Linked DNA regions of Homo sapiens. The protein of the gene in region 2 purifies or fractionates together with the protein of the main gene of each other region. This does not show direct contact. Each region holds a gene or a part of one and is shown on either strand. Other genes may lie near its edges. The genes, in order: PRMT8, RSRC1 and PHF20.

What was found.
Region 1: the proteins of RSRC1 (region 2) and PRMT8 purify together in Homo sapiens (affinity purification with mass spectrometry; one large-scale study listed by BioGRID and IntAct). This does not show direct contact.
Region 3: the proteins of RSRC1 (region 2) and PHF20 purify together in Homo sapiens (co-immunoprecipitation; one large-scale study listed by IntAct). This does not show direct contact.

Annotation. Positions count from the first base shown.
Region 1 is NC_000012.12:3,564,122-3,567,778, reverse strand, and holds part of PRMT8 (protein arginine N-methyltransferase 8), read right to left. Parts: intron 1-3,657. UniProt on the Homo sapiens protein: S-adenosyl-L-methionine-dependent and membrane-associated arginine methyltransferase that can both catalyze the formation of omega-N monomethylarginine (MMA) and asymmetrical dimethylarginine (aDMA) in proteins such as NIFK, myelin basic protein, histone H4, H2A and H2A/H2B dimer.
Region 2 is NC_000003.12:158,540,060-158,543,287, forward strand, and holds part of RSRC1 (serine/Arginine-related protein 53), read left to right. Parts: intron 1-3,228. UniProt on the Homo sapiens protein: Has a role in alternative splicing and transcription regulation. Involved in both constitutive and alternative pre-mRNA splicing. May have a role in the recognition of the 3' splice site during the second step of splicing.
Region 3 is NC_000020.11:35,774,869-35,778,525, forward strand, and holds part of PHF20 (PHD finger protein 20), read left to right. Parts: intron 1-3,657. UniProt on the Homo sapiens protein: Methyllysine-binding protein, component of the MOF histone acetyltransferase protein complex.

The DNA.
Region 1 (3,657 bases), on a different chromosome or scaffold from region 2:
TGACCAAGTTATCAGCAAGACTGCTGGTCAACAGTAGGCTGATAGTAGCTTACTTTTGTGGGAGTCAAAAATTATGCTTGGATTTTCAACTGTGTGGGGGATTGGCACCCCTAACCCCTGTGGTAGTCGGGGTCAACTGTTATTTTTGTTTACAACTAAGGAAACCGAGGCTTAGAGAGGTTGAGTAGCAGCAGTGGAAACAGAGCCCAGATCTGATATGACATGACTCTAAAACTCTTCTCAAGGCCCCCACCCCTATGTTAGGTTACCATGACAATTCAAACTCAAAGAAAGCATAGATGCCTCCTCTATTGCTTTTGCATTTGTTCACAGCCAGGCTCAATACCAAATGGGTGCCCTTCTAGTGTTTGTGAGGGAGGAAATTGATATTTTGATGAGAGCATGGGCTCTGCAGTCAGGGAAACCTAGGTTTAAGTGCCAGATCTTCTCACCATTAGCTGTACGACTTTAGACAAGTTACTTGACCTAACTAAACTCCAATTCCCAAGTGAACAACCATGAAAAGCAATATCAATTTAGAGGGTGATTGTATTGATCAAATGAAATAACACATGTGGAGTGCCAGGCCCATAGCTAAAGCTCAACAGAAGGTGGACATTATCTGACATATTCCTGCTTGTTGATCCACAGATGGAGAGGGGAAGCAGATAGGGCCAGGGTCAAAGCCCCTGTCCCCAGTGGCTTCTTCTTATGAGTCACCTTCAAGAACTTCAGTTTCCTCTGTGGGAGGAGACACTTCTTAGTTGAGTTTTTGATAAACTGACATAGACATACACATAATTTTGGAGTCCCTTTTTGTATTTGTTGCTGTAAAGATCTGAGCAAGCTAGTTTAGATACCACTGTTAAATTGGCAGGCTGATGTATTGGTTGGTTTGTTCTTTCTGAACATTTCCTTTGAAAGGTTACATATATTCATGCTCTGAAACTCTCATTCTGCAATATCCTCTGAAAAAAACTCACACAATGCCTGAGCTTTGCTGGGAAAAACAAACAATGGCCTGTACTTAGGAGTAAAAATCAAAAGAACCACATCTGCCTAGAATCTGAGTTTCATGAAAATTAATTTGGACTGAGGCTCCTGGATGGCAAAGAGCACACCGTTTGCTGGCTTTATTTAGTTTCTTCACAGTGAATAATGCAGGTGATGGAGTGTCCATTAGCAGCTTCTAATAACAGTTTACTCTCCACTATGTGGTATTTAATCAAGCTTTAATTGGATACAGCCTGCTCTACAAGGAGTAAGACACTTTGTACACATGCATTGACCCTGGTCACTCTACAGTGAGGTTCAGTCTTGGGTGGCCCTCCTGACTGGTTACTGCTCAAAAGCCCCTACCATTAAAAAGTATGAGCAGGAAGAGCTATTCTCCAAAAGTTTTGGTGGGAGTGGGAGGGGTAGGTGTTGAAGTTTCTCTGGGTCTCAGAGACCCCAGGGCAGGAACTCAACTGAGAGCAGGGCCCAGGGTGCACTAAGAAAATTCATAGAGTGGCAAAGTAAAGGATTTTTTAAAATGCAAACATTGTGCCTAATTTATTTCTTATTTTGAAAGAGAACTGACAAATATATGCATGACTCACCTGCCTAATCATTTGCATGCAAAGCCTGGCTTGCCTTAGTTTTGTAAACTTAAAAATTGTCTTTAATGGCCTCCCTTACTTTTTTTTCTTTGCACGTTTCTTGAAGGTTCTTCCCTAATGTCTGCCTGTGTCTGTGTGGCTATGGGTCAGTTCCTCCTCCTGCATTTATATCATGACCTCTCTGTAGCCCTAGAAGATGTTTTCTCCTGCCTCCGGGGCCTCATGACCTCTACCCTGAGTGTTTAGTACAAGGCTCCACCCATGACAATTTTTGTGGACAGGACTCTATTAGGAGCTGCAGGAAACAGACAAGGAGTAATCCATCATCAAGTCTAACAAACAGGTATGTATGAAATATTCCTCAGGTGTCCCCCAAAGAGAGTTACTGCTGCTCATGTTCTCTGTGTTAGCCCTCTTATCAATTAGTTGCTGTAACCTCATCAATATGGATTACAAGAGATGATTGATAGATAGACAGACGATATAGAAGACAGATAGATGATAGCTAGATATAGGGGGTCACAGAATAGCAAAAATCACAATCTCTGCTTGCAAAAAGGCAGAAGGAATCAGTTAACCCTATAAAATCCTCAACAGTCTGGACTTCTGTTCTCTTAACATCACCCTTCTACATCTATTCAAGTGCAGACATTTCTCAGTGTGGACATGGCCCCACAGTTGGCTTGGTGAGGAGATGAGCCCTTTGTCAAAGGAAAAGGACCCATCTCCCTTCAATCCAGTGCTGGACTGGCTTTTAGACTCCATTTATCCCCTTTCTCCGGTGCTTTTGTGCTCAACCTGCACAACTTTATGCTGGAATCCTAAAAGGCAGCAACTTACGCTCTTGTTCCAGGTGACAGCTAATCTCAATCAAACATCTCCTCTCTTTTATTTTCCTCATTAGGAAAAAAAAAAAGAAGGGAGGTTGAATCTGAAATTCTTTGCAGTGCCAGAAAGCTGCGGTTCTTCAAATGTGTACTGAGCACTTGTTATGTGTAAGGCATTCTGCAAGATTCACTGGTGGAGACAGCTGGCATCAATAAAAAAAGATGGTGCCTCCAAGTTCCAGTTTGACTGTCATTTTCAACACTTCCTGGGTCCTTTTATTTTTTATTTTTAAGAGGTCACATTCTTTCTGTGCAGCCAAATACAACTGTCCAGCTGAATCACCATGAATATTCTTCCTGCAGTCTGTAGTCACCACCAGCAACCACTTAAACTTCCAGATTCAATTTTCCAATCTACAAAATGCTACCTGTCATGGTGGGGCATATGCCAACTTACTAGGGGCTATTGGCCAACATAGGGCATTAGGCTGGCTCAAGGAAGTGTGTGGGCACACACAGCAGCAGTCTTCCCTTCTCCTCCATGCAAAGGATTTTCAAGGGGGTCTAAGCTATTGATATTAAGATTCCGAGCAGCCGTAGGCTGCAGAGCTCCATGCCCAATCTGGACCCCAAGTCACTAAAACTGCATCAACTCAAGGTTGCACTGAGGTCACCGTCCGGATCCATGTTTTTATTCCAGAAGGATGATGGAAAGTTTGTTCAACGAACTATGACAGGACTCTGGCTGGTAAATTACAGAATGATTAATCAGAACTAAATGCACAGCAGGGAGCAATAGACTCTAAATTGGGAAAACTTCTCCTGTAGCTTCAAGTTTGTAAGTGAGACATCCAGATTTTTAAAAATGGTTTTGAGTGGAATTTTTTCTTTTTGGTTTGAGTGGTTCTTACAGAAATCTAGTCATTCTCATTAATGGTCATTTTTGTTTTTAAACAAATCAGGCCAGCTCAACCTCATTTGAGCCTCCAGTGCATCCATCAGGGTCAGCTGATGCCCGTAGGATCTGAAGTTAGTGATCATTTTTAGGTCCTCACTCTTTCAGAGAGCAGGTCCTGTGCCACACAAGAGGAGGCATGAGGGTCACAGGCATGGGAACATATTATGAGCCTATGAAGCCCCCTGACCCCCCTGCCAACCCCACTGCAGCAAAGCCCTTCGCTCGCCCTCCCCACTCCCTTGGTCCTTGCTCATACACCTATTTTGGTGAC
Region 2 (3,228 bases):
TAAGGCAGTATAGACTACCAAAAATCAATGTCTTGAACCTCTTGGATTAGCGTATTTCCCACTTGCACTTGTGCAGAATATTGGGCTTTTTAAATGTTCTCAGTTGTGTAAAGGGTCAGTATAATATCACTTAGGGCCACAAACCATCTAGGCACAGTGTGTTGGAGACATACAAATGTTTGAGACTTGGCAAAAAAAATTGCTGACACCAAAATATGAGAATAAAGCTGCCAAAACAAATTGAATAAATATTTATTTAAATGTCTATAAAAGTTAATATTATCATTAACACTGGCATCATTGTTAGATTTAGTAGTCATAAGCATCTTAACATTTGAAAATAATTTATAGATTTCTCTTACTTTGTAAGAATTCCTAAACATACATGACTGCCCAGATATCTATCCCTCAGATATCTACCCCTTTTGTCCATGAGGGAATAAATCTGTCCTATGAATGCTGATCAGCTTCCATTAGAATAAAAATTAGAGTATTTTAATTGAATAAAACACATGCCTTAAAAAAAAAAAGTGGATCTTGATATCATCATCCCCAAAATAGCTCATAACTTGTCTCCTCTTCACAATCCACAGCCACCATTTAAATCCACATCATCATCTCATTCTTTAACTTTTATAGTAGCCCTCTGGTTGTTCTTCCTGATTTTCCTTTTGCATTTATCTAGTCCAGGACCCATTCAGCAGCCAAAACAATATTTTTCAAGAATAATTAGACTTTACTGACCATCTGACCATTACAGAATAACTGGTACCAAATTTGCCCTCCCACCATAAACAGCTATAGAACTTGACAAGATGTGTAAGACATTGTTTTCAGGAATGTAACAATAGGCAGCTCAGGAGGGTGATCCTTTGGAGAAGGGAAATAAAAGGTGAGCCCCACAGTTACCCAGCTTTCTGTATGAGGGCACTTTCCTGCTGTGGTGCTGGGAAGTGATACCCATGCAGAGTGGTGATGTGGCTGTGTTAAGGAAGAAATACCCCAAGTTCTGGCCTGCAGTGTCTCACTGTCTTTTTGCTCACTATACACCAGCCCCTCTGGCCTTTTTTCTGATCTTCAAAGACACCAAGCCCTTCTCTCTCAGGATCTTTGTCTTTTCCCTCTGGCCAGAGAACCATTCTTCCTTTTCACCTGCCTGGCTCCTTCTAAGTCTTCAGGGCTTAAATTTCACCTCCTAGAGAAGCCATCTCTAGCCACCCAATCTAAAGTAGATGTTTTTCCCTTCCTGATCCCCATCATTCTTTGTCAGCACCTTGTATAGTCCTTTATAGCACATACTACAATTTGTGATTATGCATTATTTTGGAATTTATTTGTTTATAATCTGTCAACTCCATTAGCAACATATAATTGCCACTTGGGACAGGAACCATATCTATTTGATTCTGCCTGTGTACCCAGTGCTTAGCAATTAGTAGTGCTCAATAAATACTGGTTAAATAAATGGATCTCCAACTCTAAAACAAATTAACCTAAGAACAGTTTAATTCATGCATATTTTATCCTCTGTATATTTTTCTTAGTGACATCTGTTTTTGGCTTTGTTCAGAGAAGTGAAATGTTCAGAATTATAGATAAGTTAAAATAAATGGAAATTGAAAAACAATAGGTGTGGAACAAATGGGTATAAAAAAGGCTACATAACAATCTCCTATTCATCTTGTTTTTTTTTAATTTTACTTTTTAATTTCAGCTTCTGATCTAATCCATTTCATATTATCCCTGTAACCTTACTGCTAATCAGTCACTCCTTGGCCTTCTTTCTTAGGGAAGAAGCTACTGAAATGTAACTAAGTAAGCACTACTCTGCTGGCTCCTTCAAGGCAGAAACAATGATTTATTAGTTGTATCCCCAGCACTTGGTACAGTGTATCGCACCTGGTGAATACTCAGTAAAGGTGGAATAAATTGGGAGTCTATGGTTTGCATGATGGTATAAGAAATCCTAGAGTTTTATTTTTTGCCAAAGATACATCGTACCTTTTTTTCAAACTTTTATATATATATTTTAATATTTTAAGTAGCTCCGAGACAACCTTTGAGTTCATCAACTGATGAATGGATAAATAAAATGTGGTAGATCCATACAATGGGACATTATTTAGCAATAAAGAATAATGAAGTACTGATACATGCTGCAACATGGATGAACCTTAAAAACATTATGTGGCTGGGCACGGTGGCTCACGCCTGTAATCCTAGCACTTTGGGAGGCCAAGGCGGGCTGATCACTTGAGGACAGGAGTTCGAGATCACCCTGGCCAACATGGCAAGACACCGTCTCTACTGAAAATACAAAAATTAGCCGAGTGTGCATGGTGGTGTGCACCTGTAATCCCAGATACTCGGGAGGCTGAAGCAGGAGAATCACTTGAACCTAGGAGGTAGAGGTTGCAGTGAGCCAAGATTGTGCCACTGCACTCCCACCTGGGTGACAGAGTAAGACTCTGTCTCAAAAGAAAAAATTATGCTAAATGAAAGAACCAGTCATGAAAGACCACATATTGTATGATTCCTTTTATCTGAAATGTCTAGAATAGGCAAATCCATAGAGAAAGAAGATTAATTGTTACCTAGGATGGAAAGGTTGGAAGGAATGGGGAATGATTGCTAATGGTATGAGGTTTTGTGGGGGATGATGAAAATGTTCTAAAGTTGATTCTGGTAATAATTGCACAACTCCATGGATATGTGAAAAGCCATTGAATTATGTACTTTAAAAGGGTAAATTGTATGGTATATGAATTCTATAACTCAATAAGGCTATTTTTCTAAAGATAACCTTTGAATTTACTTTTCATACCTAAATTGGCCAACTAAATGTTGGATATTTGTTGTAAGCTTGTTTTGATTAATAGAATTTAGATATATGAAATATATGTATATTTCAATAGTATAGGCACGTAAGTACCAATTTCTTAAGAAAAATGTGCTTATCATAAGAAATGATTGACATTTTCTCAGCATTTTTCTATTTGTTATTCCTAAAACAAATACAATATAGTTATTCCTATATTCTATTTCTATATATCTATAACTATATTCCTAAATATAGTTATTCCTAAACAAACAAATATAAAAATAAAATAACTGTATTTCTAAAACAAACAAATACAAAAAGTAGGGCCTTTTTGGAGATGGGTATCATCTCAAAGGAGACTAATTGAACAGTTGTTATTCAAAATCAGAAATATTTTTGAAGTAAAA
Region 3 (3,657 bases), on a different chromosome or scaffold from region 2:
TGTTTTCAGAACAACTAAGCTGTTTTATATTTCATGTGCATGAAAGCCCTAGAACTAAGTTGTGTTATTTCCAGAAATGAAATAGATCCCACAGTTAGATGATGTGGCCATTAGGAAGTACCAAATTTATAAAAATCACTGGAGGTCTGTCTGAGCAGTACCTAATAAAATATAGTATACTGAAAGTGAACAGATACTTTGTCTCTTTCTTTGGCTGCTTGATACTTTATCTGTGTACTGCCGTACAGTGCACCCTTAAAGTATTCTACACCAGTGCTTCTCAAACTTGAATGTGCATGTAAGTCACCCAGGGGTCTTGTTGAAATGCTGATTCTGATTTGGTAGATCTAGGATGGGACCTGAATGCATTTCTGATTTGCAGGTGATGCTGATGTTACTGAACTACACTTTTAGTAGTGAGGTTTCATACACGAAGACAAAGTTTCTCTGTGAAAATAGGAAGGTGGTGGTTAGCCTTATATTTTTTTATTTTATCTTTATCCAGACACACATCCCTTAAAAGTTTGTACAAGGCCATAGTCCCCTTTATTAGTTATACTCAATTAGTTATTCTAGCACATAGCTTTTTAAATATTGGCCAAAACTGGCTGGGCACGGTGGCTCATGCTTGTAATCCCAGCACTTTGGGAGCTGAGGCGGGCAGATCACGAGGTCAGGAGTTCGAGACCAGTCTGGCTAACACAGTGAAACCCTGTCTCTACTAAAAATAGAAAAATTACCTGGGTGTGGTGGCAGGCACCTGTAATCCCAGCTACATGGGAGGCTGAGGCAGAATACTTGCTTGAACCCGGGAGGCGGAGGTTGCAGTGAGCCAAAATTGCACCACTGCACTCCAGCCTGGGCCACAGAGTGAGACTCTGTCTCCAAAAAAAAAAAAAAAAAAAAGGCCAAAACTTCTCCAGGAGTTTGGTTTCTGTGTGTATATATATATATTTTGGGTGGGGACAGGGTCTCATTCTGTCACCCAAGCTGGAGTGCAGTGGTGTGATCACGGCTTACTGCAGCCTCAACCTTCTGGGCTCAAGCGATCCTCCCCTCAGCCTCTTGAGTTTCAGGGACCACTGGCACGTGCCACCACACCTGGCTAATTTTAAATTTTTTGTAGAGATGAGATCTTGCCATTTTGCCCAGGTTGGTCTTGAACTTCTGGGCTCAAGCAGTCCTCCACCTTAGCTTCCCAAAGTGTTGGGATTATAGGTGTGAGCTGCCATGCCTGGCTATTGCCAAATTTAAATGGTTACATATTTCTTACTTGAATGTGAACATAATTATTGATATAGAATCATTCTAATAAATACTGCATAGCCAGCTTGTCTGTCTGGTTCCTCATCCTACCATGAGTAGGGAGTCTGTGATACCCCAAATCAGTGGGTCACAGGTGTTGGAATTTCCAAAGAGTCCTTCTTGGTTTTCTGGGTTCTGGAAATGGGCCAGGAAAAGCCAGGATAAAGCTATGTTCCCCGACCTCGAATGGAAGCTTCTGGCTTTCTCTAAATGGGTGCTCCAGAAAGACAAATGCTGGGGAGAAGATGATATTCTTTGATGGTGATCATGCTTTATGATGATCTTTCTCCTTTTGTACCCACATGTCTAATCTATTCTAAGTCTCAAGTGGGTTTTTCCTTTTTTCAAAAAATTTTTTTGGAGACAAAGACTACCTCTGAAAGTGTTTTTCCTTTCTAAGTGTGTTGGATCATCTGTACCTATTTCCCTGGCTGTCACCTGTCTGGCCCTCTTCCACGTGATCCTGTTGCCAGCCCTAATCAGGACAAACCTGAATGACTAGACTATTTTGTGTCCCTGTCCTCCTCCAACCCCTATTCCTCACATGAGTGTCAGATCCTATTCAGTAACGGATTTGATCTGGATTTGGCTCTAGTCCTAGCTCTTCCATTTACTGTGAGACCTCAGGCAAGTCACTTAATGCTATGGGCCTGCTTCTCCCCATTTGTAAAATGAGGGGCTGATGATCTGCAATGTCCACCCTGGCTGAATCTTGGTCGCTACCTTGCTTAGAAACCCCATTGCCTGTGGTAGCTTGTTGCAGCAGATCTGATTTCTTTCATGTGCTCCCTTGGGCAGCCTGCCAGTTATTCCCTTGTCCAAGTCACTTCTGCCATTATCTTTTTTTCTAGCTGAGGCAGCCAGCTTGTTCTCAACCCAACTTCAGCGTTCTTCTTGCTTCCATGTCTTCTTCCAGTTCCATGCTGTATTTCATTCAGAACTACCTGAAATCCTCAAAGAAGTCTTCCTGAGTTCTCCATTCAATGTTTGTGACTTCTCTGCCTTACCAAGAAGGAGTCTGTACCTTATATACCCCGTATTTACTTGTCAGTTCTCTTATCTAATGTATACTTAAAAAGGGACTTCATTTCCTCCATACCACAGCTTTGTTTTTTGGTTTGAATTAGCAGGGCAGGTGGCATGAAATTTAAAGAGGAAGCAAGCAGGTTGTTTGCCTTTGGCTGGGATTTGGGGAAAGTATGAGATGTAATGTTTTTAGTCCCCTTCCCCAAGATCTCCTGTATCTGTGGGAATCAGTTGCCTGGTATGTCTTCCTGGATTGTAAAGGTGCTTAAACTTCCTTTCTGAAGTTTGAAAGTGTATCCTAAGTGCAAATACCATTTGACAATTACTCGTGGTTGGGTGGGTGCAGTGGCTTACGCCTGTAATCCCAACACTTTGGGAGGCCAGAGTGGGAGGATTGCTTGAAGCCAGGAGTTCAAGACCAGCCTGGGCAACAAAGTGAGATTCCTGTCTCTACTCCCCCACCAAAAACAAAAAAGTAGTCAGGCATGGTGGTGCGTGCTTGTAGTCCCAGCTCCTTGGGAGGCTGACGAGGGAGTTCAGAGTCTGCAGTGAGCTAGGATTGTACCACTGCACTACAGCTGGGTGACAGCACGAGACCCCATTGCTTCCAAGTGCTCTTCTAGGAACACACAGCCACAAAACCCAGAACAAGGAATTGTTAAGGATAATGATAAGAAATCTGTATTTCAAATAACTTAACAAATGAATAAAACCAACAGTTCTTTGAGAGCACCTGATTATTGTCAAAGACAGTTGCTGAGGGGGCTTGGAAGTCAGGACTTAAAGGTATATTTAACCTCTGGAGTTTTCTTCTTTCATCATCTTCCTAAGAAATAATAGGGAGGATGTTTACATTTTTCTTGATAAAGTCTTTTTATTAATTTTATTTATTTATTTATTTTGAGAAAGGGTCTTGCTCTGTTGCCTAGGCTGGAGTGTAGTGGCGCAGTCTTGGCTTACTGCAACCTGTGCATCCTGAATTCAAGCGATTCTTGTGCCTCAGCCTCCTGAGTAGCTGGGATTATAGGTGCGCACCACCATGCCCAACTAATTTTTTGTAGTTTTAGTAGAGACAAGGTTTCACTATGTTGGTTAAGCTGGGACATTTTTCTTGATAAACATTCTTTAAACCAAAATGTATGCTTAGTCAAGATCCTTGATTGGATTATGAGCCTAGAGAAAAGGAGGGTGATGTCTTTGTCTAATCCATCTTTGCCAGTGACTGCCCCTTACAGGCTATTGACTATAGGGTAACCTAATGAAAATTGAGACAGGCACTGTGGCTCACGCCTGTAATCCCAGCACTTTGGGAGGCCAAGTCGGATG